7 separate regions of the Homo sapiens genome follow, and all the other regions are linked to region 7. Evidence: fine-mapped expression QTL. A gene starts in region 7. Each other region holds a variant in brackets. All regions are shown on one strand. Distances are from middle to middle.

Region 1 (4,421 bases), 200 kb after region 7:
TGCTTTGGGGAAAAGTGTGAATGTAATGTTATTAAAAAATCAAGTAATTTTATTTCCTACCCTTCATACTAACAGTATAATTTCGTAATTCTTTTTCTAGGAGTTGACTGAAATGTACTAATAATCTGTGAGAGGTCTGTGTGCTAAGCCTTTTCTCAGTCTCGTCTCTTGGCCAATTGTGGTCCATTGGATAAAAACAGTATGTCTGGCCTGCTAGTCTGATGGGCTGCCAAGAGGTGGACAGTTGTGATCAGCCACATGGGCTTTGTTCTGACACTTGGGTGACGGTGGAAGCTCCTGATTGGCAGGAACTCTGCAAGTGTATGTGGGAGCAGTGTTTCCCAAATGCTGTTTGCCCAGGGCACATTTGTACTGGTTTGCAAAATGTCCTACTGAAGATCCTTGTTAATAATGTGTAGGTTAAAACAACAACAAAACTAGGGTTCAGTTTTGAGATATTGGATAGATTATATCCACCGTGCATACATATTGTGATGTCTCAGGGTACAGAATGTAAAGAGTAACAGTTCACTCTTACAGATTCAGTTGGGAATAACTGTGTCAGGATGCCTGAGGAATATCACCTTGTTATCTATTTATTACATACTAATTCAAGATTTTTTCTCAGGGTGGCATGCATATTCAGTAGTGTTTGTGTATTGTACTAAACCCTGTTCTTACTGAACTGAGATTTTGCATTTTTTATAAGCAGAGCTTGGAAGCTGAACCCTTAAGTGTCTACCCTGGTCTTGTGGCATTTCATGTTGAGAGCACCAAAATATTCCCTGTGTCATGGGAAGGGTAGATTATGAGAGAAAGAGCAGATAAACTCCTGGGCCCTAGGGTGGTTTTTTTTTTTTGTTTGTTTGTTTTTATATCATGTATCCACAATGATCATTTGGAAGGAATCCAAGTGAATCAAGTGTGAGTCAAACAGCATTGTTTATAGATGCTGTTGTAGTCTGTTCTATGCTGCCGTAGTGGAATACCACAGACTGGGTAATTTACAAAGAAAAGAAACTTATTTACTTATTTATTTATTTTGAGATGGAGTTGCCCAGGCTGGAGTGCAGTGGGGTGATGCAGCTTACTGCAACCTCTGCCTCTGGGGTCCATGTGATTCTCCTGCCTCTGCCTCCCAAGTAGCCGGGACTACAGGCATATTCCACCATGTCCTGCTAATTTTTTTTTTTTTTTTTTGTATTTTTAATAGAGATGGGGTTTCACCATGTTGGTTGTCTAGGCTGATCTTGAGCTCCTGACCTCAAGTGATCCTCCTGCCTTGGCCTCCCAAAGTGCTGGGATTACAGGTGTGAACCACCACACCCAGCCAAAAATGTGTTTCTTATAGTTCTGGAGACTGGGAAGTCCAAGGTCGAGGGCCTGCATCTGGTGAGGGCCTTCTTGCTGCATCATCCCATGGTGGAAGGTGGAAGGGCAAAAGAGGAAGGGGGCCGAAGTCTTCCATTTTATATCCCACTTCCACATTAACAGCATTAATCCATTCATGAGGTGGAGCCCTTATGGCCTCATCACTGTTGCATTGAGGATTAAGTTTCAACATGAACTTTGGGGGACAGAGTGAAACCATAGCAGACAGTTTTCAGAGCTTTCCACCAAGCCTGTTTCTCTCCACAGTGCACTGACTGAGCAGGGCTGCGGCACTGGGAGGTAGCTGGTGTCTGCCATGCACTGGGCTTGGTGCAGGAGTTGAAATGTACTTGTGGGCCAGATGTCACCAAGTGGGCGTCTATATGTGCCTCTGCAATGGTAATTCCACTCTTGCTGCTTTGGTATATATTTGCTATTTCCTAATAATATAGTAATAACAATCTAGAACTGGAAGGAAACTCCTTGTTTTAGAGGGGAGGATCCTTCAGCCCAGAGATCATACAGATATAGTTGGGCAGAGTTGGGACTGGAACTCAAGTCCCTTCTGCTTGTCGTTTTTTTCCAATCTAATATATATGTATATCTACATACACCTATACATAACATATATACACACACACTCTAATATATATATATATATATATAAATTTTTTTTTTTTTTTGAAGAGATGGGGTCTCTGTGTTACCCAGGTTGAAATGCAGTGGCTCTTCACAGATGTGATCATAGTGCACTACAGCCTCAAACTCCTGGGTACAAGCGATCCTCTGGAGTAGCTAGGACCACGGGTGCACACCACCGCACCTGTCTTCCGCCATGTTAAACATAACCCTTCCCCATAGAAAATTCTTAGCACATTTTATAAAGTGGGCTGTGATGCCATGAATCCCAGCCTCAGGAGGGCCATTCTGATTGGTCTCAGGCCTCCATGCTGTAGGTGTTGTGGTGATGCTCTAAGAAGTGCGAGAACTTGTCCTCCTCCAATTGGAGGTTGACTCACGCATGCTTCCTGCAGTCAGGTTGTGTGAGTGTTGCAACCTGGTACCCACCCAGGGCTGGAGAGTCTGCGTGCATATTTGCTTACAAGTAGAGGAGCTGATTTTTGTACAGACAAGTACATTTCACCAGTGCTGCCAGCACGTTCTCTTGGTCTGGAAGGTCAGTAACTGGTA[C/A]CAGAGTTGGTACGGTTTGTTTTTCATTGTTTGCTCTGGCTTCTGTGCCGGATGAGGTCATTCAGTTGCATACAGTTCCTGCTTTCAGAAGTTGCTAGAGTGTTTCTCTTTGAACTTGAACTGTGGCTCTTTTGATATCCAGAAAGAGAGTTCTTTGTGGGGATGGTTAATTCTTGTTTTGGGTGCTTTTCTTCACCGCTCTAAGGAACTACCACAGTCAGAAGGTGCATTCTTACTGCGATCTTTTTATTTGCTACCTTGGGCTTAAGGAGCCTGCCTATATCTACTGAGGTGAGGTTAGGTCAGTCTCTGTAACCGTTCGTCACTTAGGCCTTGATGGGTGACATGGATGGGGATGACTTCCTGGGCTAACTCTTCTCTTGCTAAAGGATGATTTTTCACCACCTTGAATGCCCATGATTAAAACATAAACAAGAAAATAGATATCTGAGGTAAGAATAAACACTGGGACTTTTCTATGGCTGTTGAATAATGTAGTCCTTCTCTAGAAAATGTTGTGTGAACTTAGACTTGTTAACACAATAGCAGACTTGTATGAGACTAAATAAAAATTATATGTTGTTATAGTGAGTGGTATTGAATAGTGTGTCTTTGCCAGGAAGAGAGCTTTGTAATAGGCTGTGTCTTGTGTAGTTGTGAACTATTTTTTTTTCCTAAAATTTCTTCAGATGCCAACCATGTCTGTCAAACTCTGGATGAGTCGCCTTTTACTTAGCTTTTTAAGAACTCTTTTTGGATTCACTAACTTTTATCTGCATTATTTTATCCATGCTCTATTAAGTGTCTAGGATCCTGATAATTATGCATTTTCTCTGAAGATATCTATTTCCAGTAAAATTTGACTATCTAGTGAAGATTGTAGGCCTGATAATATATTTTGAAGTACTTGTTATGATCTGAATGTGTGTGTCACCCCCAAAAATGCATATGTTGAAATTTGAACCCCTTATGTTATGGTTTTAGGAGGAGGGGCCTTGGGGAGTCCTGAGAATGGGATTAGTGCTTCCAGGAGAAGAGACAGGAGAGCTTTTTTCTCACTCTCCCTGCTGTCCACCATGTGAGGACACAGCCAGAAGGTGGCTGTGTGCCAGTCAGGAAGGGAGCCCTCACCAGACACCCGATCTGCTGGCACCTTGATCTTGGACTTCCCAGCCTCTAGAATTGTGAGAAATAGACAAGTGTTGTTTAAGGCCCCCAGCCTATGGCAGCTTGTTATAGCAGCCTGAGCTAAGACATATTTGATTTTAGCAAAATAGCACTTGATTTGAAAGCATTCTGCTCATTGCCATCACCTCCTCCTTCACAGTTGTGGATTAAAAAAAAAAAAAAATGAACACATGACCACAACAAAACACTGATATGTGCTGAGTTTAATTTACTTCTTTTTTTTTTGAGATGGAGTCTCACTCTGTCATCCAGGCTGGAGTGCAGTGGTGCAGTCTTAGCCCACTGCAACCTCTGCCTCCCAGGTTCAAGCGATTCTTCTGCCTCAGCCTCCCAAGTAGCTGGGATTACAGGAACTCGCCACCATGCCCAGCTGATTTTTGTATTTTTAGTAGAGATGAGGTTTCACCATGTTGGCCAGGCTGGTCTTGAACTCCTGACCACAAGCGATACGCCCACCTCAGCCTCCCAAAGTGCTGGGATTATAGGCGTCAGCCACTGTGCCTGGCCTTTAATTTGCTTCTTATTCCTTGGTTAGGATTAGGGAGAGAATGTCTTGGGTGGCCACTGTGGAAACAGCATTTCCAGTACCTGTCGGTACTTGTCTAAGGAGATTTAATGCTCTCCTTCCTCTTGGGCAGTCATTCTCACAGTGGCTATGGCTTGTCTTGCTA
Region 2 (4,421 bases), 160 kb after region 7:
GCTAACAAGCGAGCTGTGGAATGGGGCTGGTGCCACCCCACATCGGCTGGGAAGGCCTCAAAAAAAGCCAAATCCTGTTTCAAATCTTGTTTATGCTCCTTCCTCTCTTCCCCAGCTTCAAATCAACAGATGCTTCTAGTCTGGGAACCTAGGGGAGTTCTCAGGGCCATGTATCCTGTTTCTTTTAATAGAATTGCAGCCTGACTAAGGTAAAAATTAGTTTCCTTTTTATATTCTTTAATTCCTTGTCTTCACTCTTTAATCAAATGTCTTGTTTTAATTTTTCCTTGCCCTGTGGCGTTGGCTTATGTCTAGCCACAAAATGTCCCATTTCATATACGTTTTAAAAAGTGGACCACAGGAGGAAATATTTCATCCAAAGGGAATATTATAGTTTGAACACTTAAGATCTAGAATCAAAGAGTCTGCAGTAGGAGTCAGTCACAGAACACAAATAACAGGGCCACAGAATTTTTCTGTTAAACAGAAAAAGTAAGAAAGGAGTCTACATAATATAAACAGCAGTTTAATGTTGCTTTCAAAACATCGAAATGTGAAACCAAATCTCACTCTCCTCACTGGCTGTGGACATGCCTCTTCCCTGAAATTCCCTGAAAAGAATGCCAAATTTAAAAAAACAGAGAACCTAAGAAATAAAATGGTCTTTATTGCAAAAGTCATGATTATCTACATTAAAAATCCCAAAGAACTATTTAAAAAATGACTAAGAAATATAATATGTGAGTTTGTCAAGTTCATAAGATACAAGGTCAATCTGTGGGAATCAACTGTATTTTTAAATACAAGCAATAAATAATTGGAAATTGAAATTCTAAAAATGTATAATTTACAATAACATCAAAACCAAGAAATACTTAGGGATTACTTTAACAAAATGTATGTAAGGTTTGTATGCTGGAAAGTACAAAACATTGATAAGGAAATCGAACAAGACCTAAATAAATGGAGAGATATACTATGTTCATGTGTCAGAAGACTATATATTAAGACATCAGTTAAATGCGGCATGTTCTCACTCATAAGTGGGAGTTGAACAATAAGAACACATGGACACAGGGAGGGGAACATCACACACCAGGGCCTGTGGGGGGATGGCGGGCTGGGAGAGGGATAGCATTAGGAGAAATACCTAATGTAGTTGACGGGTTGATGGGTGCAGCAAACCAATATGGCACGTGTATACCTATGTAAGAAACCTGCATGTTCTGCACATGTATCCCAGAACTTAAATTATAATAATAAAAAAAATACAGTAAGCATTTTGAAAAAAATCAGCGTTATTCTAAAATGTATATGAAAGCAAAGGGCCTAGTACAACCAAAATAATTTTGGAGAACAACAAAGTTAGATGACTCACAAAACCTGAATTTTAGAGTTACTGTAAAGTAATACAAATAAGAAAGGGTGGTGTTGATGAAAGGTTAGATATACAGAGACATGGAACAGGATAGAAAATCCAGAAATAGGCCAAGCGCGGTGGCTCATGCCTGTAATCCCAGCACTTTGGGAGGCCAAGGTGGGCGGATCACGAGGTCGAGACATCGAGACCATCCTGGCCAACATGGTGAAACCCCGTCTCTACTAAAAATACAAAAATTAGCTGGGCATGGTGGCACGCGCCTGTAGTCCCAGCTACCCAGGAGGCTGAGGCAGGAGAATGGCTTGAACCTGGGAGCGGAGGTTTCAGTGAGCCGAGATTGTGCCACTGCACTCCAGCCTGGCGACAGAGCGAGACTCCATCTCAAAAAAAAAAAAAAAAAAAAAGAAAGAAAGAAAGTCCAGACGTAGATAGACACTTACACGGTCAACTGATTTGCAACAAAGCTACCAAGTTCATCAATGTATAAGACATAGTCCTTTCAAAAAGCAAACAATGGAACATCTGTATACTAATGAAAAAAAAAGAAATTCAACCTTTACACCATTGCCTAGCACCATATGAAAATATTAATTTGAAATACGTCATAGACCTAAATGTAAGAGCAAAAACTATAAAACTTCTAAAAGAAAACATAAGAGAATGTAATTGTGTGCTTAGCTTGGGCAAAGGTTTTTTTTTTTTTTTTTTTTTTTAGCTAGGACACAAACACAAATCGTAAAAGAAGGCATGGATAAATAAGCCTTCAAATTTAAAGTTTTTTCTTCTTCAAAATACATTGTTAAGGAAATAAAAAGAGAAGTCATAGATGGGGAGGAAATATTTAGAAAACACATGCCTGTAAAAGAACTCTTACAACTTATTAAGAAAATACACACAACCAATAAAAACTGGATAAAAGACTGGAACAGAAGCTTCGCTAAGGAAGATATATGGATGACAAATAGCACATGAAAAGGTGCTCAACATAATAAGCCATTAGAAAAATAAAAATTAAAACCACTCTTCACCTATTAGAATGGCTAAAATGAAAAACACTGCTAGTGTCGACTGCTGATGGATCATAGAACAACCAGGACTCTCATGCATTGCTGGTGGGAACGTCAATATGGGCACTTTGGGAAAAAGTGCCCATTAAGTGAAAT[G/A]TACACCGACTGACCGTACTGCCTTATTTTCCTAGGGTTGCTGTAACAAAGTATCGCAAAGTGAGTGGCTTAAAACAACAGCAATTTATTTCTCGCACTTCTGGTGGCTACAAGTGTTGGATGAAGGGATCTACAGGCGGTGCTCCCTCTAAATCCCTCTGAAGCTCCCTCTGAAGGTTATAGGAGAGTTTCCTTCCTCATGTCTTCTAACCTCTGGTACTTGCTGGCAATCCTTGGCACCCTTTAGCTTATTGATACATCACTCCAATCTCTGCCCCTGTTGTCACAAGACCATCTTCTTCCTGCGTGTCTGTTTCTGTGTCTCGTCTCCTCTTATGAGGATACTTACCAGTCAGATTAAGGGCCACCGTACTCCAATATGACCTCATCTTAATTACATCATCTGCAGTGACTATTTTTTTTTTAAGCAGTCTCACTCTGTCGCCCAGGCTGGTACCCAATGGCATCATCTCGGCTCACTGCAACCTCTGTCTCCCGGGTTCAAGCGACTCTCCTGCCTCAACTTCCTGTGTAGCTGGGATAACAGGTTCACACCACCATGCCTGGCTAATGTTTGTATTTTTAGTAGACACGGGATTTCGCTATGTTGGCCAGGCTGGTCTTGAACTGCTGACCTCAAGTGATCCACCTGCCTTGGCCTCCCAAAGTGCTGGGATTACAGGCATGAGCCACCAAGCCCGGCCCGTAATGACTTATTTCCAAATAAGGTCACATTCGAAGACTGGAGATTAGGCCTCAACATCTTTTTGGGGGGCGTGGGGGCAAGGGACAGAATCCAACCCATAATACCATACAACCCGACAGTCCCACTCCTAGGTTTTTACCCAAGAGAAATGAAAACATATGACATATGTTCTCACACAGACCTGTGTGAGATGTTTATAACGGCTTTATTCATAGTCACCCCAAACTGCAAACAAGCCAAGTTCATCAACTGTAAATGGATAAACTGAGATAAACAATACAATGGAATACCACTTGGAAATAAAAAGAACGAATTACTGATACACCCAAGAACATAGAGAAATCTCAAAAGCGTCTTGTGAAGTGAAAGCAGCCCTGAAGGAGACTGAACTGTATAATACCCTTCATGTTGCATTCTGGAAAAGGGAGAACTATGGAGCAAAAATTGCAGAGACTGTGGGTGGGGAGGAGGGAACTCACCACAAGGGGACATGAGTCAACTTTTTTAGGTGGTGAAATATTCCCTATGATAATTGTGGAGGTGGTTACACAACTGTATTACATGAGTCAAAATTAATAGATCTGTAGACTAAAAAGAGTAAATCTTACTGTATATAAATTTCACTTCAAGAAGCTGGGTTTGGTGCTTCACGCCTGTAAACCCCACCTCCCAGCTTCAAGCAATTCGCCTGTCTCAGCCTCCCAAGTAGCTGGGAAAACAGGCATGCGCCACCATGGTAATTAGGCACCAAACTCTGGGTCATGGGCCTGTCTCAGGCCTTTTTTTTTTTTTTTTTTTGGCGTCTACCTGAAACTGTCTCTAGTTGTTTATTCTTTACTCCTGACCGGACAGCACCTTCCTAGATGCAGCAGTGTCCTTTCTTCCCTACCAGGACAGCTTGCTCTTGCTTTACATGTGTTGAAGCTCTGAGCACACAGTTTTACTTTTGTCTCTGCTCAAACACAGATAGCCACTTACGTGTTTCATCACTTCTAAGCAGCCATCAATTGTGAAATTAGGATATCTTAAGCTTCAGATGCCAGAATGTACAATTTTATGTTAAATCATATTCAGTTTAGACCATTTTTGAAAAGACAGTGTCTCCTGAGTGGCTTGACTCCTTGTGAGCAAGACCCAGGCTCTCCCTCACTTCCTGTTGCAAGTTTGAGAG
Region 3 (4,421 bases), 120 kb after region 7:
TTTTAAGTGAAATGTGTTTGAAAAACGTTGGCTTCAATTTGCCATTCCTCTTAAACCATGCATTGCTTTAGAAACAGGCCAGGTTTTTTTGAATGCTGAAACAAGTTTCCAATAAGTGTACCATTCCAGAAGACCTTGTGGAATCCTCATTCTCTTTTAGGTTGCACTCAACCTGTGCTGCCAGGACCTCAAAGATTACACCACTTGGTCATACGAGGGGAGAATCCTGTAAGTTGGAGGCTGTTGGTTATGGTCAAAGGGTTTCATCAGAACACCCTCTTTTTGCTAAAGGTCACCTAGAACTGAGTGGAGCCCAGCACATTTTCGGAGTTGGCTGTCTGTGTCATCTGCATTTAGTCAAGTTTCATTTCCTGTGGTTTGTAGATTTCTTAAGTGTGAAGTAACGAACCCCAAACAGTTAAAATTCTTTACCTAAAAATGGATGAAATGAGAAAAAAAAATAAGTATTTTTGTAACTTCTGTGGGGAAGTGAGACTGGGGTTCCACTGAGCAGTTCCTTGTTGCTGCGCACATAAGGCCAGCCCCTCTGCGGGAAGGTCCATGACACTTGGAGTTCAGATCTCCTTGCTGGGCATCTTAGGAGGTGACAAAACGAGACCCATTTTCTGACAATTCAGACAAAGTGTCTGCTTTTACTTTCATGTCGTGGGAGAACAGTCAACAGTGCAGTTTCCACCAGAACCCACTATATCTCAGTCACACACCCCTCTGATTTTGTGCAAGAGTTGTTTATCTTCCATACAGATTTTTCTGAGTCTTTGGCCACAGATGAACAGAAAACAGTTGAGGTAGGAAGGTGAGAAAAAAAGAAGGGAAACTTATCCTGAGTTTGCTTTCTTTCCATTCCCTTAACCTTAGGGCAGACAGTTTTTTGTTTGCTTGTTTTGTTTTGTTTTGTTTTGTTTTGAGACGGAGTTTTGCTCTTTCACCTAGGCTGGAGTGAAGTGGGGCAATCTCAGCTCACTGCAACCTCTGCCCCCTCCCCACCAGCAATTCTCCTGCCTCAGCCTCCGGAGGAGCTGAGACTACAGGTGCGCGCCACCATGCCCAGCTAATTTTTGTATTTTCAGTAGAGACGGGGTTTTGCCATGTTGGTGAGGCTGGTCTCAAACTCCTGACCTTAGGTGATCCACCCACCTCAGCCTCCCAAAGTGCTAGGATTACAGGTGTGAGCCACCGTGCCCAGCCAGGGCAGACAGTTTGAGGGTTCATGGGAGGCCTTTAATTACGGAAAATGCTACTGGGGATAGTAGAGGACTTTTAGTGAAGACCTGGTCCCCAGACTCTTTATGGGACTTTTTGGTCTGCACAGCTCCTTCTGTTGGGTCTTTGTTTTCAGTGAGAGCTTCCTTGACCACTTTCTGCAAAACTGCAACCTTTCCTTCAACTCTTACTTCCTTGTTTGTTTTGGTTTTTGAAACCACTTGTCACTATCCACACATTATATAATTCACTTGCTTTTTGTCTGTCGTCCCCTTCTAGAAGGTAAGCATCATGAAGGCAGGGATGTTTGACCATTTTTTGTCCTGCTGCAAACATAATGAATGCCTAGGATGGAGCCTGACATATAGGAGGCACTCAGTGAATATTTATTAAATGGGGAATGAACCCTTGCTCTTTTTAAACTTGCTGAAGCAAGTAGATGAATCAATCACTTCTTGGCCTTTTGGCTAAATCAAGTGAAGCAGATGAGTCAGAAACTGGAATTGCGTCTTTTTCTCTTTGTTTTCTGCCCCCAGCTCCTCGCACAATTCTTGGACTATGTAGGAACTGAAAAGTAATGGTTGTTTGACTAAAGTATGCATGCATGAATGAATGATTGAGTCTGGTTTACAACGTGACTTTTGATGTAAAAACTGTTGTTTATTTGGGTACTTAACACATATAAAGCAAACCATGCTAATCCACGGAGAGTCAAAGATGAGTCAGACATGGGTCAGACATGGGTCTTGCCTTCAAGATGCTAAATAGACTTCCTTTGTCCTGAGTTTACTTTCTTTCTGTTCCCTTAACCGTAGGACAGTCTGTGGGGTCACAGGAAGTCTTTTCTTAGGGGAAATGCTCCTG[G/C]GGGTTGTAGATGATGACTTTCAGTGAAGACCTGACCTCTAAACTCTTTTATGGGACTCAACTATCATAGCTTGTATTTTAGTCTAAAGAATCTCAACATTTTGTCTCTATTTCAAATAATAGTAATTGGATTTTCACTGTCGTATAAATTCTTCCCAAGAAATGAAGGTTAGCCAGGTGCTAATTACGCCTGTAATCCCAGCACTTTGGGGGGCCGAAGTGGGTGGATTGCTTGAGCCCAGGAGTTGGAGACCAGCTTGAGCAACATGACAAAACCCCAACCTACAAAAAAAGAGAAAACATTAGCCGGGTGTGGTGGTGTGTGACTGCAGTCCCAGCTACTTGGGAGGCTGAGGTGGGAGGATCTCTTGAGTCTGGGCTGCCAAGGCTGCAGTGAGCTGGGATCGCGCCACTGCACTCCAGACTGGGCGACAGAGTGAGACCAGCCTCAAAAAAAAGGAAAAAAAAAAGTGAAGGTGGCAACATGCTTGTTGCTGGAGGTTTATTAGAAGAACATAGACATGAAAGTCATACAATCCCTGTTCCAAGAACTTAAAACACCAGTGAACAAGAGGCCACGGGCTGTAATATATATTAACAAAGAGAAAATGTTTCTAGAACTCATTTATAAATCTTGCATTATTAAGTGTAAGTAGGAGAAAGTTGGTTGGTTTTCCATCTAGGTTCTAGATTTATTTCCACATGCTAAGTCTGTGGAAATTGCCCTGGAATCCAAGGAGATGTTTCTCTGGTGACCAGGGGTGGGGGTGAAGATTTGGGGCTGGAGGTGTCTGTCTTTGGGAGGGTAAGGCCAGCAATGGTATGCTCCTAGTCTGAAGTGAACGAGACTTCCTGGCCTGCCTATTTCAAGATGTGCCAATCTGTGTCCAGTCCTCTGCCATTTTGCCTTGAGAAGGTGTCAGGCTAATGAGATAGGATTTCCAAGTACAAAGCACCCTCCTAGGCCGAATCTGTTAAGTGGTGTTACCACTCAGGGTTTGGAAACCCTGTCATTCATCCTCCTCAGAGTCATTGGAGAGCAGTCTGTGCTTTCCCCTCTCTACATGGGCAGAGAGCAAATTGCTTCCAGATTTTTCTGTTTAGGAAATTTAACAGATCATTTATTGTTCATAAATGGGAAAATACAAAAATACCTAAAATGAGGGTTTGATTTAGTCCTCTGTATTCAAGGTGAGCCTGATGTGGTGTTGATGGACTGGGCACATGTGCCTTAAAGAGGAGCTGAGCTGCACCTGTGCAGCAAGCTGTTTAGCCTTGACATTGTGCTCACATGCCCATGGGACACCTCAGTAGTCTAGTTAGTATGACCTATTCTTCTCCATCCAATCCTATGTCCTCTTAACACAGTGGGAATGGAGGCATGGAACTTTCCAGAAGTTTGCCCAGGTTGTAAGGTGAACCAGTTACCGGTTACCAGGAATGAAATTTTCAGTGTGCACAAATTGAAGCAGAATTGCCTAATTTTTTGTGTGTGCTGCAAGCTGCGTTTCTACACTCTTTCACTTTCTTTTACTATTTTCTTATTTGTTTGTTTAAAATTTAATGTTGGCCCTTTGTAAAAATTTCTTAGAGAAGGAGGAATTCTGAAGGTGACATTAACATCCAAAATCAGAAGTAAAGTGATGATCTTTAACTGTTTGCATCCTGGAGGAATCTCTCTACCCACTTCTTACTTCTCACTTCCTTCCCCCACATTGGTATAAAAAGAAGAACTTGTATTGCATGCCAGGAACCCGAATGTCCAGTCACTTGTCTCCTTGGAGTGCACCTCTCCTTCCATTCTGATGACATGGAAGGTGGAAATTGTCATCTAGAAATTTCAACTGGTGGTCACAAAGCCTCCCAAGAGAGAAAATCCAAAGTTTTCAAATCTCAAAGATGGTAATTGTTGGCGTTGCTTTTGCAATTTACCCATGTTTTCCTGAAAACCTTCAAATGAAGTGAAATTTTGGCCCTGGAAGTTCCCTGTGAAGTCAGCCTCTTTATCGCCCCCATGCCCCACACTGGTTCGGAGTGGTGTAGGAGCCACCTTACCTTGCTCTACTCCTCAGTGTTTCCTGGTAAATCAGTTGCTGCTCCAGAATTTGTATCTAGGAGGAGCACAGGGGCCAGAACAGGTTGAAAAGACATTAAAGGACTTGTCCTAAAGTCGTTCCTGCACAGCGCTTTATGGAAGATGAGAAAATATCAATTGTTTATATCAGCGATGGGGAGGAGGAGCTGATGAAGTTGGAGTGCATGGCCGACACTCAGCACCCAGCCCCTCTCCCCTTGCCCTTCACTTCAGTGCCTGTGACCCCACTTCTGGCACC
Region 4 (4,421 bases), 160 kb after region 7:
TCCCAGTCTTTTTTACTTGTTCTTTCTCTGTGTGTCTTTGTCTCTCAGCCTGTCACTTATCATTTTGGACAAAGGTCTGTTATTTTCTTTGGTCTGTCAAAGACAAGGACAGTTCTATCATATCTTTGTATTTCTTTATTTTGTCCTTGTAATTATTTGTGTATGAAATGATACAAATGATAGCAAATGGCTGAAGCAATTGTTGCAGAGAGAAATGAGCTGAGAAAAGCAGGTGCCTGTCAAAGTACAGTTTCCTGCAATGTGTGTTAGCTGTGGACTTAGAAAAAGGAGGCCACCAGAACAAGCTGGAATCTTGGACAGGGTAAGTAAGGAAGGACAGGGCAGGTTGTTCTGAGTGCTGATGGCAACTGAGAGACGAACAAGGAGAATTGCAAAACCTTTCCAGAAACTGCCCTCAGCTGCCCAAGGACTCTGTCCTTCCATCATGCATTCATTCTCTCTTTTTCCTTATAAAGTTCCAACTTTTATTAATATTATCCAGCTAACACTAACATTAGTTAGGATTTTAGTTCATGTTAAATTTGGTGGAACAAATAGAAGAATGTTATTACTTGAACAGCAGTTTTAAAAGTCCAGTAATCATTAGCAGTTCAAATGTGTGGGTCACACACTTCTCTAAGCAGAGTTAATAAGTAAACCTTCTCTGGCACGATTTAACATTAGCTGCAGTTTGAACTTTACTTCTAAGATTGGAGTGGATCACACAGCTCTCTCTTCCAGACAAGCCTGGGGAGCACAACAACTAAAGCTGGAACTTTTTATATAAATAAGGACTTATGTATATAACATGTATATATATTTATACTCATACATACACACACATACACATATACACACATGTATAAGGACATATAAATGTTTTATATGTATGAGGATATAAATATATAAATATATGTATTTTGTGGCTGAGAGTGACTCCCAGCTAATAACTAGCAAGGAAAAATTTATGCATATATATTTTTATACATATTTATAAATGAATGAGCTTAGAAGAGGACCTTGAGCTCCAGACGAGATGAACTATGAGCCCTGCCAAGATCTTGATTTTGATTTTGGGAGGCCTTCAGCAGAGAATGCAGCCGTGCCACTTCTGGACTACAGAAATAACTATGAATTCATTTACTGTTAAGTCCAGAGGAAACTGAAGCTTTGGATAAGTTTCTTATCCGAGGTCACCAGGCAGATCTCTTTAGTCCTAGCCTAGCCTTCCTTCCATTCTTCCATGAACTTATTTTATTGCAATTAATAGAAGTTAGGTGAATATATATATATATATATATATATATATATATATATATATATATAAAACTGGCATTCAACTAGTTATTAATAATATAAGCATTCCAAAGGATACTTCCCGCTAATGGAAATGTCTGTATCTAGAGCGAATATCAGAAAGAAGAAAAAAAAGTTGGAGCAAACTGTAGAATGTTCACAGAAATTTGGCCATTTGTATTGTATGTCAGTTATTTGAATTAGGAAATTTACAGAAATTATCTTCATATTGCTTAATTGCAGAGATGGTTTGTTTACTCATTAGTGTCGACCATTAAGTTACCTTAATATTTTTGACAGGATGAGCGCTTAAGGATTTTGTTCCCCTCTCTTTGCTATTTAGAGATTTTAGTTTTAATACACAGGAAGACTCTCAGGAAATCCTTTTTTCTGGTTTTGGATTCATGTAAAGAAAAAAACGTAAAATGCAGATCTTTGCATCATTCAGTAGTCGTTTATGTGAGTAACAGCTGTTTCTCTCGATTCTTCGCGATGTGCAGTTACAAGTTAGAACCACCATTTCATAGAGTCCCTTTGATTTTAAAATTGTGAACAATGAAAAGCAAGTGTTCTTTAAAAACGAAATTAAGTGTTTTAGGCAGTACATATATTAAATGTTTGGAAAATAAAACTCTCCTGAATTTTTAAACTCTCTAGAATTGGCAAAGTACTCAGTTACATTATGAAATACAGCTCTGTTTTGGAGCTTGCAAAATGCTTTTGTAGTGGATAACTACTGCAGGGGACAATACTCATCTTTACTGTTGGTGCTGTTAGCATATTTAATGAAGTAATTCCATTCCTGTGATCACAAATGCTCATGCACAGAGGCTCTTTTAATGAAACAGCTTATCATCTGGTTTCTAGCATGTTCTTTCAGATTTGGGCATATCATTTTGATCCTTCCTAAGTACTATTAATTTAAAAAGGTATGCATGTGCTATATTTGCTTGGCAAACCACACAACTTTTCACAAAGATTTTCCACAAATGAGTTCT[C/G]TAAGTCTCTTTATTGAAAGGCATTATCTTCCTGAGTTATGGAATATTACATTAACGTCATACAACAATTGTGCAAAACAGTTAAGCAAAATAAAGGGACTTCTGTTATATTTACATGATTATGCTATTTAAATGATAAAATTAGGATGCCATATTCTTTTTTATTTTTTTTTTGAAGTGGAGTCTTGCTCTGTCACCCAGGCTGGAGTGCAGTGGTGTGATCTTGGCTCACTGCAAGCTCTGCCTCCCGGGTTGATGCCATTCTCCTGCCTCAGCCTCCCGAGTAGCTGGGACTACAAGCGCCCATCACCATGCCTGGCTAATTTTTTGTATTTTTAGTAGAGATGGGGTTTCACCGTGTTAGCCAGGATGATCTCAATCTCCTGACCTCGTGATCCACCCGCCTCGGCCTCCGGAAGTGCTGGAATTACAGGCGTGAGCCACCGTGCCCGGCCTAGATGCCATATTCTTAACTTCGTTTTCCTTTCCCTATTGTTTTCAGTATTCAGGTCATCAGGGGTCAATGAAGACTTGGTAACCACTGAACGGACCATGTGGGAATTCGGTTATTACTCAATAAGAATTCCTTCTTAGGCCTGGTTCCTGGTTTACTGCTGAGCTCTGCATGTGATACCTCTCCAAGGTTTCCACCTTCTGCCTGCCCTCACATTCTATGTTTATATTAAAGAGCATCTGTCTGTTTGCCTGTCCTTCCATCTGTCATAGAATTCTAAGATAGCCTCCACAATTCCTGGCCTCTGGTATACACACAACTTCTCCAGTTATTCAGTCATACCCTAATCTAGCTATTGCTGTGATGGGATTTTGCAGATGTAAGGAAGGTCTCAAGTCAGTTACCTGTCAAGATAGGAAGATGATCTGGGTGTGCCTGACCTAATCACATGAGCACTTTAAGTCTGAGTCTAGAGCCCTAGATGGCCAAGTCAGAGATTGGAAGCATAGAAGGATTTGCTGAGACACTGCTGACTGGAAGATGGGGAGGGCCACATGATGAGGTTTCTGGGCAGCCTTTAGCCTTTAGCAGCTGAGAGTAGCTCTCAGCTGACAGCCAGCAAAGAAACTGGGTCCTCAGTCCTATAACCACAAAGAACTGAATTCTGCCAGCAATCTGAATGACCTTAGAAGAGGACCTTGAGCTCCAGACAAGATGAACTATGAGCCCTGCCAAGATCTTGATTTTGGCTTTGGGAGGCCTTCAGCATAGACCCCAGTCATGCCATTTCTGGACTAAAAAAAGGACGAGTCAATATGTGGGTGTTATAAGCCACTAAGTCTATGGTAAGATGTTATGCAGCAATAGGTATCTAAAACACTGATTTAGAACCCAATGCACCTTAGTTGCATTATAGTCCCAAAGCGTTTGTTGTTTTTTCTTTCCCCCATCTTTTTCTTATTTAAACCAAAAACAAATAAGCAGAAATTAACTATTTTCTTTGACCTATCAATTGAGGCCATGAGGCCAATACCAATGTATTGTATCTGTCTTTGTGGGTTTTATGTTGAATACCAAAGTGCTTTTGTCTTATCATCAGAAAGATTTCCCTTGAGACTATTGTTAGCACCTGTTACTTTGCCCTCCATTCTGTAGTTCCTCATGTCTGATTCAGAGGAAGATTATTTGCAAGGATGGTCACAAGAATTCCTCCTCTCCTAGTACAGCACTCAAGCCCTGTTGCAATATGACTACTGCTTCTACCATCAAGGGGGGTCTCTTTCTCCAAATCTTGGATTTGGGCTGACCTTGTGACATTTTTAATGGTAGAATGTACAGACTTCTATCATTCTTCTAGACCCATAACGCTAGAGCTCCAGGGGCCTTACCACTTCCTCTTTCGCCCTCCTGGACGGGGCTGTTGTGTGAGGAAGTCCTATCTAGCCTGCTGAGAGGCCATACAAGTGGATCTGAGATGCCTGAGCTGACAGCTGCCATCAACTTCTGGACTTTGAGACCACCCAGGGCAAGCCAGTCCCTGGCCAACCTCCCAGTTGACTGCAAACACATGACAGAGCCAAGCTAATGCCACATGGGGCAGAAATAAGATATCGCAGCTGAGCCTTGTCCAAATTGCCAACCCACAGTATTGTGAGCAAAGCATGTGTTTTTAT
Region 5 (4,421 bases), 100 kb after region 7:
CAATTATTAACCTGTCACCAGTCTGGGAGGAGTTTGTACTCACGCTAAGTGCTCCAGCCCTTATAACATCCACCTAAGGAACTGCATTCTAAATGTCCTAGTTCAGGGAGAGGATAAGACTGGCAAACACATGTCTCTCTAGACTGCAGAGAAAAACAAAGTGGTGGTTTTACATTATAAAGGGTGCATAAGCAATTTGAAGGACTCCATCCCCAGGGAGCAATGCTGAGAAGGGGTTTTAAAAACACAGCCCCTGTATATTCTGGATGTTAATCTCTTGTCAGATCAATAGTTTGCAAATATTTTCTCCCAAATTGCAGGTTGTCACTTCATTCTGTTGATTGTTTCCTTTGCTGTGCAGGAGCTTTGGAGTCTGATATAATCTCATTTGTCTATTTTTGCTTTTGTTGACTGTTTTTGAGGTACTAGCCATAAAACCTTTGCCTAGACCAATGTGCTGAAGTGTTTTCCCTATGTTTTCTTCTCCTAGTTTCATAGCTTCGGGTCTTACGTTTAAGTCTTTGATGCATTTTGAGTTGATTTTTGGATCTGGTGAGAGATAGGGGTCTACCTTCATTCTTCTGCATGTGGATGCCCTCTTTTCTAGAGATACTTGGAACGCAAATAACTCAACAGCAAACAAACAAAACAAAAAGCAAAAGCAAAAAACAAATAATCTGATTAAAAAATAGGCAAAAGATTGGAATAGGCATTTCTCAAAAGAAGACATACAAATAGCCAAGTATATTAAAAAAATGCTCCACATCACTAATCATCAGGAAAATGCAAATCAAAACCAAAATGAGATATCATCTCACCCCAGTTCAAATGGCGATTATCAAGAAGACAAAAAAATAACAAACGCCGAAAAGGATACGGAGAAAGGGGAACTCCTACAGTACAGCCGTTATGAAAAACAGTATGAAGTTTTCTCCAAAAACTAAAAATAGAACGACCATATGATCCAGCAATCCCACTGCTGGGTATGCATCCAAAGGGAAGGAGATCAGCATGTCAAAGAGATATCTACACTCTCGTGTTTATTGCAGCACTATTCACAATAGCAAAGATACGGAATCAACCTGAGTGTCTATCAACAGATGAAGGGATAAAGAAAATGTGGCACTTATACAATAGAATACTATTCAGACATTTAAAAAAAGAATAAAATCCTTCATTCGCAGCAACATAGATGAGCCTGGAGGACATTATATTAAGTGAAATAAGCCAGACACAGAAAGACAGATACCACATGTTCTGACTCATATGTGAGAGCTGAAAAAGTTGGTATCATGGAAGTGGAGAGGAGAACAGTGGTTACCAGAGGCTGGGAAGGTTAGGGGGAAGGAAAAATAGGGAGAGGTTGGTTAATGAGTACAAAATTACAGCCAGATAGAAGGAATAGTTTCTAGTGTTCTATAGCACTGCAGGGTGACTCTAGTTAACAATAATTTATTGTATATTTTCAAATAGCTAGAAGAACAGATATTGAATGTTCCTAACACAAAGAAATGATGGATGTTTGAGGTGACGGACAGGCTAATTACCCTGCTTTGCTCATTTCACATGTATACATGTATTGAAATATCACATGTACACATAAATATCTATGATTATTATGTGTCCATTTAAAAGAATGGAACCAAGCCTCTTTAATTATTGGTCAGGAATTCTATTTCTGTCTCCAACAAACTACCTTTTTGCTTCTAAACTTGCTGCCCTAGAGTGAAATGTTAACTCCCAATGTTGCCAACTATGAGGCCAAAGGAAAATGACTTGATGTACATTGGTGAATGTATTTGGTTCGTGTTTTTAAGTTTTTTTATTCCTTCCTTCTTTCTTTATTTCTACTAATGTTCAATCAGGTGAACCTTAGGAAAAGAAGCTAATTTGTACCAAAATCTTACCTTGAACTCCCTAAGTATAAACTTAGTGTGGTTTCACATGCCCTTTCAATGAGGCATCTTGGGATTAGTCCTCAAGGAAAATACAGTCATGAGCCATATAATAATGTTTCAGTCAGCAACAGACCCCATATAGAATGGAGGTCCCATCAGGTTATAAACTATCTTTTTACTGTACCTTTTCTATGTTTAGAAACACAAACAAACACATATTCATGTTGTAAAGTGACAACACACGACTGTAAATGAAAAGTCCATTTGTTTGACAAATTTTAATAGTACATTCTTGGTACATCATCGTGGTCACATTTGATTTAATAAGCATTGTAAAACTCATGATGGGGCCGGGCACAGTGGCTCACGCCTGTAATCCCAGCAGTTTGGGAGGCCGAGGCGGGCAGATCAACTGAGGTTAGGAGTTTGAGACCAGCTTGACCAACATGGTGAAATCCCGTCTCCACTAAAATACAAAAATTAGCTGGGCATGGTGGCAGGTGCCTGTAATCCCAGCTGCTCGGGAGGCTGAGGCAGGAGAATCGCTTGAACCTGGAAGGTGGAGGCTGCAGTGAGCCGAGATCACGCCACTGCTGGGCAACAGAGCAAGACTTTGCCTCAAAAAAAAAAA[T/AT]AAATAAATAAAAAATAAAAAGAAAGAAAAAAACTCATGATGGCAGGGGAGGTACAGAACCAATGTACAGAACCAATGCATGCCTGACTCCTGATTTCCCAGAGCTGGAGTTCTTACACTGGTGTATCAGTTAGGACTCATTCTTTTAGAAGTGACAGAAAACCTGATAGGAATCAGTTTGATTTAAAAAGAAATAGAGGGTTTTTTTTTTGTTTTTTTGTTTTTTTTTTTTAAATAAAAGGGAGTGTATTAGCTGCCTTATGCGGAAAAGTCCAGGGTTAATCTTGCTTCAGGCGTGGCTGAATTTGGGGCTTAGTTGATATCAACAGAAGAAAGCATTGGAGCATCTCTTGGCTCTGCCTTCCTTTGTGTGGGCTTCAGTTTCAGCCGCACGTGATAACAAGGTGGTGCCTACAGTAGCAGCTGCAACCCCTGTCTCTGGTTTCAGGGCCAGTGGATAATAAGAACAGGAGTCATTTTCCCAGAAGTCCAGAGAAAAATCTCATTAGGTCTCACTAACCCTGAGTGTGTCACATTCAGACAGCGAGATGGGAGGGGGTCCCCAGAAAACCTCCAACCAGCCTGCCCACTTGGGGTGGAGCCTCGGGAAGCTCGTGCCATTTGCATCAGGGAGGAGCCTGGCCCCTCCTCTTCCTGTGTGTAACCTGGGATTCCAACAGGAAGGGTTGTAGCAGGGACTCTGACCTAGTAAGAGTCCCTGTTTCCCCCTTTTCTTCCTTTTCACCCAATAAAACCCTGTTTTACTCACCATTCAAATTGTTGGCGAGCCTTTTCAAATTGTCTGCAAGCCTTAATTTTCGTGGCCATGGGACAAAGAACTCTGTCTTTAGCTGAACTAAGGAACAGTCCTGGAACAACATAGCCGCTCTACCAATCAGAGGGAAATGCAGCAGACTGATGGGCGTGGGCCTGGGTCATATGTTGCACCCCTGGAGTGGGATGGTGGGGAAGGAGTCGGTTTCACGGAGCACAGAAAACCACAGTTCTTTAAGAGTGGGATGAGATGGGATGAGATGGCTTTAAAGAGGAAATCAGGACACACTTACTAGATAGTGAGTCAGTGAGTACTAGGCAGCAAAATCAACAGATGTCTACTACAGTTGGACTGTTGTCATTTTATTCTAGCTTTGCTGGGAAAAAGCCACTACGAACGCATTCAGCAAATTGCAGACTTGCGCTGAAGAGAAGAGACACAAGAATTGAAGGAGCTCAGCTTCTTTTCTCTAAATAGAACATAGTTTATACTAGTGAGGACAGATGCTTGTTTATTCTGTGCTGAAAGCTCTCCAACCAAGAGCATTTCCAACATCCTTCCCTCTGCAGATTGTTGCGGGACTTTGCAACTCTTACTAGTCAAAGGGAAACCTTAGGGAGGGGCTATTTAAGATGGAGTAATAAATATGTTTGGAGAAGAGCTAAAGGGCTATGTTATTTCACAGTTCTGGAATTCAGAGCAATAAAAAAGTAAACAGTCTTACTGGCTCAAAGGGGAGAGTCTTTTCATCTTGAAAATGACTTTATTTGGATTATTTTGGCCTCTCAAGAGACTTCCCCTGTGGCTGTATTATAAAATAATTCCTCATGTTTTCATTATATACTGTTCTGTCAGGCCTTGTGAAACAAGAAATGACTTACTGCATTTATTTGCTGTGTGATGGGGCTTTTCTGTTATTTACACATTCTTTGGTATACTATTAATTCATACCCACTTCAAATATGTAATTTTGGAGGCAATTTTCATTAAAATTTCTTACAACACATACATTTGAGATAATTGAACTGAGGCCTTATTTACCCAAATTGCTTATGCCAATACTATTCTATGGGTTTTAAAAGTAGGACACATTTTTAGAAATGGTCTCTGATGATGA
Region 6 (4,421 bases), 120 kb after region 7:
ATATTTGGATTAAATGCTGTTTGTTTCTGTGCAAAATGGAATACATAATCAGATATTTTGTTTTGAGCCTTAAACAACAGCTAAGAGTCTTAAACGAAACTAGCTAAGATCACCTCTGATTTCTTATCCTTCACCACAGAGAGATGATGAGAGCAAGAGATAATAAAACGCAACAGCAATATGTTACTAAAGACCTTTCTCCAATGAATTATGGCTTTCATTAATGAATTAATGCATAGCTGTAATTAATAATTAGGGTTAATATGCGGTCTATATTCCACACAGATATTCAGAAAATAGGAAGTAATTCTGAAGACCCGAAAGGTTATTTCAACTGCTTATGACTGATGTTACAACCAGAGCAAACTCAGCTGTAGATGTGTTTTTGTGGCTTGCAAATTTTTTGAAAATTGGTTGCCAATGTTTAAAAACTGGAAAATTTCATGTAAAAATCTAGGTTCCAATTTCTCTTGAGAAATTGTAAGAACTAGCCAAACCAGGCCTGCATTCCTAAGCAGTGGAAAAAAAAAAAAAATCAACTGGAGTTGCCTTTTTAGCTGGTACCTCCCTATCCTGCCTGGCCCCTGCAGGCATTTGGGGTTTAAATGCCAGGCTTATGACGTTAGAAGAAATATGAGATGAAAGGAAGAAACACAAACAAATAATAAACCTTACAGTTTTCAGGCAAGAAGAAACTCTTCCTTGCATATTTACAGTTGTGTGGACAGTGTTGTGTTTTTGCTTGTTTGTCAGAAATCTCTTCCTTGGCTGTGGTCTGAGGAGCAGGTAAGATCGTGTGGGGTCATTGCTATGGAAACAGGAGAAAACACTAGCCTCAAGCTTGTGGGCGTTACCTCACCCAGTGATCTTTACACAATTCCCTGAAGTTTCCCGCGGTTACATTTTACTGTGTATAAGAGGCTAATACTATACTTTTTAGGGGCATTTTTGTGATTTCAGTAATGAATAATTACAAAATATTTTGCAACTGTGCATTGCCACCAAGGAAATGGAACCACATGGATGACTGTGGCTGCACAGCTAGAAATAACAGTTCTAGCTTGCACCATGATGGCACAGGTGCTTAGAGGTCTCAGGAAAAGTTCCCGAACCATGGGCTTTTCTCCCAGAGCTCTTCCTTGAAAGGGGAACTGAGAGGCCACTGTGTGCTCCTGAGAGGCTGGAGTGAAGAACAGCTTCTGTTCTTGCTCAGCAAGGCTGGTGATGTGAAATTGCCTTTGAGAGCATTTGCCCGCCTGGCTGTGTGCCTGGCACCTTTTAGATAGATTTCGATCAGCATAACTCCAGTGTGCATGGTAATCATGGAAATTTTCAGCTTTCTTCTCCAAGGAGAAACTGATAAAAAGAACAAACTGCCCTTGGCTTTTTCTGAGCCATGGAAACAGAACAGTTCTAAGACTCAAAAAGTCAGGGCACATTTTGCAAAGGCCTGATTCTAGTATTTGGCCTTAATTGTAAATACCGTGGCAGTGGACCATTAGGTCACAAGTGTAATTTGTCCATGTGTTCATTCAACATTTATGGAGCCTTCTCTCTACTCAGGGATTGCGAGTTTTGCCTTCTTGGTTTTGTGTTCAGCCAAGGCCAGTTATGACGCTCAACCCTGATGGCCATGTTTCTAGAAGTCCATGCATCACATTTTTTTCTGTGCCTGAATTCGTTTCATGACTGCTATGCTGCAAGTGGGCTCACAGTATGTGGTTTCTCCCAACAACCTGAAAGGGCTTAAAGAAAATGGATAATTGCATTAACTCCTTCGGATGACTATAACTTTCTCAGTTTCCTACCAATTCTAGTCCACTGGTGGTGTCCTGAGTTAATCTGGTCCAGCTGCGGTATTTGATTTTAGCACATTCAGGAGCGTATTACCTTAAATAGTCTTTTCTCACAACTGAACACAAAACGTCTGGTATCCACGCTACCCTTGATACTATAGCAATAACA[A/C]TGCTAACATTTTCTAAGTAGTGTTCTTAGAACACTTAGAACAATGCATAACGTGCCATGCTAAGTGCTTTACATGGATTTTTTACTTAATTCTCTTAACAGCCCTAGAAAGTAGTACTATATTTTCTCCCCTTTGCAGGTAAGAAAACTCAAGCTTTAAAAGTTAATTTAACCAAGGTTGCATGGCAAGAAAGAGCTGGAGCCAGGACTCAGTCCAGGCCTGGTTGAGTCCAAACCCCTATATTTTCGTTATTTCCGCAGCTCTGCAAAAACCAATACGTATCTGGACAGAGTTGAGAATTTCTCTCTATAGTGAGAGGGTTGATTTTGTATCTTTCTGACTTAGTGAGTTTATCAGCAGGGATCTGGGATCTGGTGCTCTTTAGAAAGCCTAACCCTCCTGGTTTCTGTCAGGAAGGAGCTCTGCAGGAGGGTGAGCTCATGGAATTTTCCATGTGCATAGAAAGTCATGCTTTGATTGAGATGAAGTATAGAAATAAGAGTCACTGCTTTTTTTTTTTAACATTTGAAGTTGAATATCTATGTTTTAGATCTGACTTCACTCCATCAAAACATTATGTTTAACTCTGGTAGAATCAAAGACAACAAACATCCCTCGAACTTGGCCCTTCTCTCCGACTGTACAACTTCTGTTTATGGTGCTACCCTCCATCCTGGCTTCAAGCTTCAAGGTCATGTTGGATTCCTTCTTTCCACTTCACCTCTGTATGAATCTTATTGAGTTCCTTTGCTGTATTTCTCACACATATTCCTAATTTTCCAGTCTTGGTATCACACTCTGGTTTGGGTTATTATTCTCTTACACCCAAACCATTTTCATCATCTCCTAACTTGTCTTTCTGTGTCCAGGCTTTACCTGTTCTTATAAACCCTACACACCGTCAGATTATCTATTCGCCTATTAAAATCCCACCTAGCCTTGAGGGTGCAAGTCAAATTCTACAGTCTCAAGGAAGTCATTAAGTACCTACAAAAAAGTAATCTCCCCAGTCCCCTTCTTATGGCTCATAATTTACGGTTATGTGTGGATATATCTGTTTTGTTTTGTTTTTTGAGACGGGGTTTCACTCTTGTTGCACAGGCTGGAGTGCAATGGCGCGATCCCAGCTCACTGCAACCTCTGCTTCCCAGGTTCAAGCAATTTTGCCTCAGCCTCCTAAGTAGCTGGGATTACAGGCATGCACCACCACGCCTGGCTCATTTTGTATTTTTAGTAGTGACGGGGTCTCTCCATGTTGGTCAGGCTGGCCTCGAACTCCCGACCTCAGGTGATCTGCCCGCCTCAGCCTCCCAAAGTGCTGGGATTATAGGCGTGAGCCACTGCGCCCAGCCATGTGTGGATATATCTTATCCACACATGGCAGAGATGGCCAGATGTTTATCCAATATTCATATTCTTTAGCCAGAGAATCCTAATATTGTCAAGTGCAGTTATAGCCCAAGCTCTAAAACAATATTTCCCAGGCTCCTTATAGATAGGGCTGGCCAATGATATACTAGCTAAAGTTGTCAAGTGGTGTCTTAATTTGGTTCCCCCAGAAGTAGACCCTGAGACAAGGATTCTAGTACAGCTTGCTTAATTTGGAGGTTGTCTCAGGAAGCGTCAGTAGTAGAAAGAGGCCAATAAAGCATTGCTTATTAGGAAGAGTATCATTTTTGGTGACTGGAGTTTCATCCTACTGGGGAACTCTGGGATGTAGCTCAGACGCTAGAAGTTTCCTTCACTATCATTAACACTTAACGCTGAACTTATCCTAAAATTGGAGTAGAGTGCATTGTAAGCATAAGAGCAAGGGAATATGGTTGAGTTTTTAAAAAATATTATTTTTACTTTTACTATGAGCATATACGACTTCTTGAAATTTAGTGATATAACAAAATAGAAAGAAAGCTAATGATTTAATGCTGTGTAGAAAGAAGTAGGATATAAAAATGTTTACCATAACTGTAAGTACAGAACACAACAACTGATGCATAGTTTTATGGAATGGAGGAACTAAACCAGAATGCTCAATACGTAGCACAATACGTAAGCAATAAGTATTTGTTACTCTTAAATAAGTATCGAGAGGCCGGGCGCGGTGGCTCATGCCTGTAATCCCAGCACTTTGGGAGGCCAGGGTGGGAGGATTACCTCAGGTCGGGAGTTCGAGACCAGCCTGGCCAACATGGTGAAACCCCATCTCTACTTAAAATACAAAAATGAGCCAGGCATGGTGGTGGGTACCTGTAATCCCAGCTACTAGGGAAGCTGAGGTGGGAGAATTGCTTGAAGCTGGGAGGCAGATCATCATGCCACTGCACTCCTGCACTCCAGCCTGGGTGACAGAGCAAGACTCCATCTCAATGGCAAAAGAAAAAAAAAATCAGAGTTAAGAATGAATTCGTTTATTTTCCAAATTTTCTGTAATGAGCTTATATAACCTTCCTAATGA
Region 7 (4,421 bases):
GGTTTTCTAATGAGTAAAAATGGGAATAATAATATCACCTTTCTTCTAGGGTTGTGAGGATTAAATGAGTTAATTTGCTGAGATTCATGTCTGATACCAAACACTCAATAACCATGGCCTGTTACTGAGTGTTATTCTAGGTCAGACTTAGCAACACACTAATCAGAAAGTCTACTGTTCTTAGCGGGCCAGTGCTGGAACTCCGATGAGTTCATGCGTGCCTCTGAGCACACCCACTGAGCGAGGAGAGGTGGTCCTCAGAGCCCGGATGCAAGCCCAGGGCCTCCGCAGACCTAGAAAGTGGCTCTGAGCTTTCTTCCTCAGCGGTCTCCTGAATGTGGCCGCTCGCAAGCTGCACTGTGAACTGCTGACTCTCTGTTCCAAAAGGGGCTTGACACATAATTGAATGAATATATGAATGAGTGAATGAAACCAGGTGTAAGAGTGCATTTTTCTTTTCTTAAATCCCTTCCTGTTACCTCCAAGCCTTCAAAAATGTCTTATGCAGCATCACAGCCCCGATTTACTATACGTGTGCTTGGAGGGGCACAGCATGGCACGACCCGACCCGAGTGGACTGTAGCAACCAAGTCAAATGGGAGACAAAGTGCAGTTCCGAGGGGTCTCCAGGAATATCTGGGAGGGGGGACCCTGGTAGAAACCTGAACCCCCTGATTTCTTATGGGTGGGGAATTTGGACAGCTTGCACTTGGGACACAATGAAAAAAGAATGAGCTCACAACCCTGGGAAGCCAGAAACAGCTTGGATAGCACGGGGCCTGCCACACGGTAACCTCTAAATAAATGGAAGCTTTCTATATTCTAACTTTCAGTAGAGACTAAAATAAAATGTGCATTTGATGCCATATCCACTCATTCTAAAGCCATATCTGCCTTTTTGTATTATGAATATGACTGTCCATTTAGAACAATATTTCCCGTATGGCCATTACATCTATAAAATGATTGTTAGATAGAATGAGACTCAGAGGACAGATAGGAGAACAGGGATCTCGGGCACCCAACAAGCCCTTCTTAGTGGCATAAACTTGCCTTAGTCACATGAAATTTCAAAGAATTGGTTTCTGCCTCTGTAAAACGGGAATCAGTGCCATAATATAATAACTACCACCTGTCTGGGCCAAAGAGCACATCTTGACATTAAATTAAAAGAGAGAGCAAACAAATTAATTAAGAGTGGGTAACATGCCCAGAAATCTTGACCCTAAAATCACTATTAACGGTAAAAGCATTACAGTATTACATTTCTATAACATTCCTAGCAGACAGTTGGCTAAGGAAAAATCTTGATTCTGAATTGTCTTAGAATATGTTTATAATTTATTATTTTTCACCATTCACATATTAATGTGTTGAGAAACAGAAGATCTATGTTCAAAAAGGAGTTACTTTCTGAAAGTAGGTGATATATACCATATAGGTAGAATACTTCACATGTACATAATACCTCCACACATAATAACATAATACATAAGGATAATTGTTAATGTAGGGCTCTCTTTTTTCTTTTTGGTATTGTTGAAAACTAATCAAGAACTTAGCCTAGCTAGTAAAAAAAAAAAAATCAAATTACCAAAGACCTATTTATAGTTATCAGAAAAGGCAATGTGGATCCTGAAACCAGGAAACTTGTTTTGAGGGTGGGGGGAAGATTCCGGGAAGATTCCGGAAAGATCCCGAAAAGTCCAGAAAGATTCAGAAAACACATCACACCGCATCTCTCCAGGCGAAAGATTGAGTCTACCTCCTATTTTAATAATGAAACAGCTGCTAGGGTCGTGGCCCTTCTAGGGGTCTTCATTTGTGATGGACAACTGGGTCGTTTTTGTTTTGTTTGGGGGAATAAATATTTGAAGGGGGGTAACCAAAGAAGGTTTTGCTGCTGTTATGATGTTATTGATACGCAGGCTGACGCTATTATGGCAGATGCTATCAGGCTACATTATCTTTATGCCTCCTAGGTAACCTGAAGCAATTGTCTATTGACTTGGCACTACCCTACCCTGAAGCGTCTGCCCTGCCTAGGAACTGTAACCGGAGCCACTCACATGCCTCCCCAACAGCTTTCTTTAGCCACTGACAGCATCACAGAAGGAAGAGCGCGAAATTGCCCAGGATGGACACTTTCAAAGGGGCCCCAGCGGCTAAGTGACTCTCAGGGAAGGTGGCCTTGCCATCCCAACTTCTATTTAGGGGCAACCACTAGCAAGTTCTTCTCTTCGGGCAATTGGAAAGAGTTCCTATAAGCAAAGTGGAGGTGATGTGGACCCCTGGAAAATTTCCTTGCCCCGTTTGAACTTTGCAATGATTCACTGCAAGTCATGTCCACGTGGAAAGCAAGACTCACCAAAAGACTGAAGTCTCCCTCTAGAAGCATGCATCCATTTCCGTGCTCAGCTCTGCTCGCCTGTTTTGGGAATACGAGGGAGAGTGCTTCCTTCAATCAGTCCGGCGTGGCTGATACTCATTCCACCGTCCGTGTGCAGCCTGTGGCCAAAGCAGGCAGACAGCCAAGACACCCAAGCGCAGAAGGAGCTCCAGAGAAAAGGCAAGATTCGAGCACCCATGCAGAGAGAAATGGCAGTGCGAATCGGAATTCAAGTCACCGCACTGCGGCCCAGCCCGCGGAGACGCCTGAAGATGTGCCCGGGTCCCTGGATGATGGGGCGGACTGTGAAGCAGTGGTGTTTCACGCTTCCATCCCCAGACCATCAATTATTGACACGCCCAAGGTGAGTGAGTGTTCGCTCTGCGATTATAGACGGGATGGAGCTGGAGGAGCGTTGGGATCATGTGGCGAATGTTTCAGCAAACAAACTCATTTAACCTTACTGAATAAGGCATTGCGGGCGTTCTCACTAGTGCGAAGAAGTGTGTTAAAGCCGTGTAGATTCTCAGAGTGTTCTCAAAAGATGTGGATGAGGCAATGATAATAAGCACTGGAGCCATGGCAATGACCGAAGGTAACCTTGAATTAACGGGCTAGGGTGCCTTAGAGCCAAAAATGGCTCACTCAATAACAGATTAGGAGTAAGATAGTTTACAAAAACATTTTTTTCCTTTTTCTATTTCCCCCTCCACCCCCACCGGTCTGTCAATTTATTTATATGAAAATCCACAATCTAAAAAGTTTGGCTAGGGAATTCACAAAACTGCCTCTACTTAAAATGAATCACATGATATCAAAGCAGTCTGGAAAAATTTGGAAATGATCATCAGTGTATGCCTAGTGGTACGGAAGGGAACTGACCTATAAAACTATTCATAATATGGATGTTTTTGTGATAATCTTCTGAGAGTTGAAGGCAGGAGGAGGAAGTTATTTAAAAAAAATGGTGCCACTGCTCTTAAGAGTTATTTACTTATTTTCTTTCCATTTTTGGCATCAGTGAATTTTAATTGTTGAGTATTCTGATTAGATGGAGCTGTACAATTATTTCAAAGTTCCCGGTAATCCCAGTTTGCAGATGCAGTGTAGAGGAAAGGTTTTCTAAAAGGTACACTCCAAAGATATCTCTTGACCATTTTTGGTCATTTCCTAGCCAAGTAGCTTAGGACCAGACTTAAAAAACTGAGAAGTCTTTGGGGATCCATCACTAAAGTATTCTGATTTTTTAAATCATTTTTCCACATCCGTTTAACAAATTATTTTTTGGTCTGGCTTGCTTCACAGAATCTAAGAAGCCTCCTTAGCAAGAACACAGCCAACCAGCAAAGATAGGGTTAAAACATCATTTAAAAAATAGTTTCATTTGACACCCTGCAGGTTTATATGAAATGACTGAAGCTTGGGTCTGTCGTCTGCATTCTGAAATTGGACAGAGAGTTTTACCATATCCTCTGTCACAGCAAAAACTGCTATGTTTTTTTCTAGCACCACTAAACCAAAGCCCATAACCAACCAGCAAAAACCAAAATTTTCAGTGTATAGCCACATCCAGATTAAGATATTTTTGGTAGTATTATAGGTAGCTGATTAGAATTCATGGCCAAGTTGATATTTGTTGGATATTTATGGTACCAATGATGTACAGTTTTAATGAACCGGAAGACTTTCTGTTGAGCAATGCAGACCCACCTTATATTACTGAAGACAGCCGCAAGAACAAAGGGTTACTTTGATTTTATCTTTCTGTTTTAGTTGCACATGGGACTCAGGGACTCAAGGCAAGCATGTGAATTCAAATAGAACCAATAACACAAAATGGGGCCACATCCATGTTTAGTGTCCACTTGGCAGGAGCAAAGCCATGGGTGGTCCACAGCGTAGGATGGATTACAGTTGGGAAGCCCGGAGCAGAGAGGACATTGTAACAATCCAGACAGGAACAACAGGGAGATAAAGTGGGAGGGGCTCCATGAGGCAGGACACGCGGCAGTTGACTGTGCGGTCCAAACCA

Evidence for each region.
Region 1: its variant is fine-mapped to the expression of FAM107B in spinal cord (GTEx, PIP above 0.99). The same link has a PIP of 0.9 or more in caudate, hippocampus and putamen.
Region 2: its variant is fine-mapped to the expression of FAM107B in lung (TOPMed, PIP 0.94).
Region 3: its variant is fine-mapped to the expression of FAM107B in monocytes (TOPMed, PIP above 0.99). The same link has a PIP of 0.9 or more in whole blood.
Region 4: its variant is fine-mapped to the expression of FAM107B in whole blood (TOPMed, PIP above 0.99).
Region 5: its variant is fine-mapped to the expression of FAM107B in whole blood (INTERVAL, PIP above 0.99).
Region 6: its variant is fine-mapped to the expression of FAM107B in whole blood (TOPMed, PIP above 0.99).

Annotation. Positions count from the first base shown.
Region 1 is chr10:14,570,356-14,574,776 of GRCh38, reverse strand. All of the region lies in intron 2 of FAM107B (family with sequence similarity 107 member B), which reads left to right. Among named protein-coding and RNA genes, the nearest start is that of MIR1265, 140 kb to the right of the region's middle. RefSeq lists a silencer at 2,291-2,340. The variant C/A (reference allele first, on the strand shown) is at 2,563.
Region 2 is chr10:14,617,382-14,621,802 of GRCh38, reverse strand. The region is part of intron 2 of FAM107B (family with sequence similarity 107 member B); the gene reads left to right. Among named protein-coding and RNA genes, the nearest start is that of FAM107B, 160 kb to the left of the region's middle. The variant G/A (reference allele first, on the strand shown) is at 2,545.
Region 3 is chr10:14,655,947-14,660,367 of GRCh38, reverse strand. All of the region lies in intron 2 of FAM107B (family with sequence similarity 107 member B), which reads left to right. It overlaps LOC105376429 (a long non-coding RNA gene), which reads right to left. Exons shown (of 5, transcript XR_930691.4): 4 at 4,144-4,199; 5 at 1-432. Among named protein-coding and RNA genes, the nearest start is that of FAM107B, 120 kb to the left of the region's middle. RefSeq lists an enhancer at 232-321. The variant G/C (reference allele first, on the strand shown) is at 2,089.
Region 4 is chr10:14,608,390-14,612,810 of GRCh38, reverse strand. The region is part of intron 2 of FAM107B (family with sequence similarity 107 member B); the gene reads left to right. Among named protein-coding and RNA genes, the nearest start is that of FAM107B, 160 kb to the left of the region's middle. RefSeq lists an enhancer at 4,030-4,079. The variant C/G (reference allele first, on the strand shown) is at 2,295.
Region 5 is chr10:14,670,213-14,674,633 of GRCh38, reverse strand. The region is part of intron 1 of FAM107B (family with sequence similarity 107 member B); the gene reads left to right. Among named protein-coding and RNA genes, the nearest start is that of FAM107B, 100 kb to the left of the region's middle. The variant T/AT (reference allele first, on the strand shown) is at 2,530.
Region 6 is chr10:14,650,221-14,654,641 of GRCh38, reverse strand. All of the region lies in intron 2 of FAM107B (family with sequence similarity 107 member B), which reads left to right. It overlaps LOC105376429 (a long non-coding RNA gene), which reads right to left and starts at 1,895. Exons shown (of 5, transcript XR_930691.4): 1 at 1,809-1,895; 2 at 676-808. The variant A/C (reference allele first, on the strand shown) is at 1,966.
Region 7 is chr10:14,772,585-14,777,005 of GRCh38, reverse strand. FAM107B (family with sequence similarity 107 member B) reads left to right here and starts at 2,109. Exons shown (of 5, transcript NM_031453.4): 1 at 2,109-2,753. The coding sequence starts at 2,343.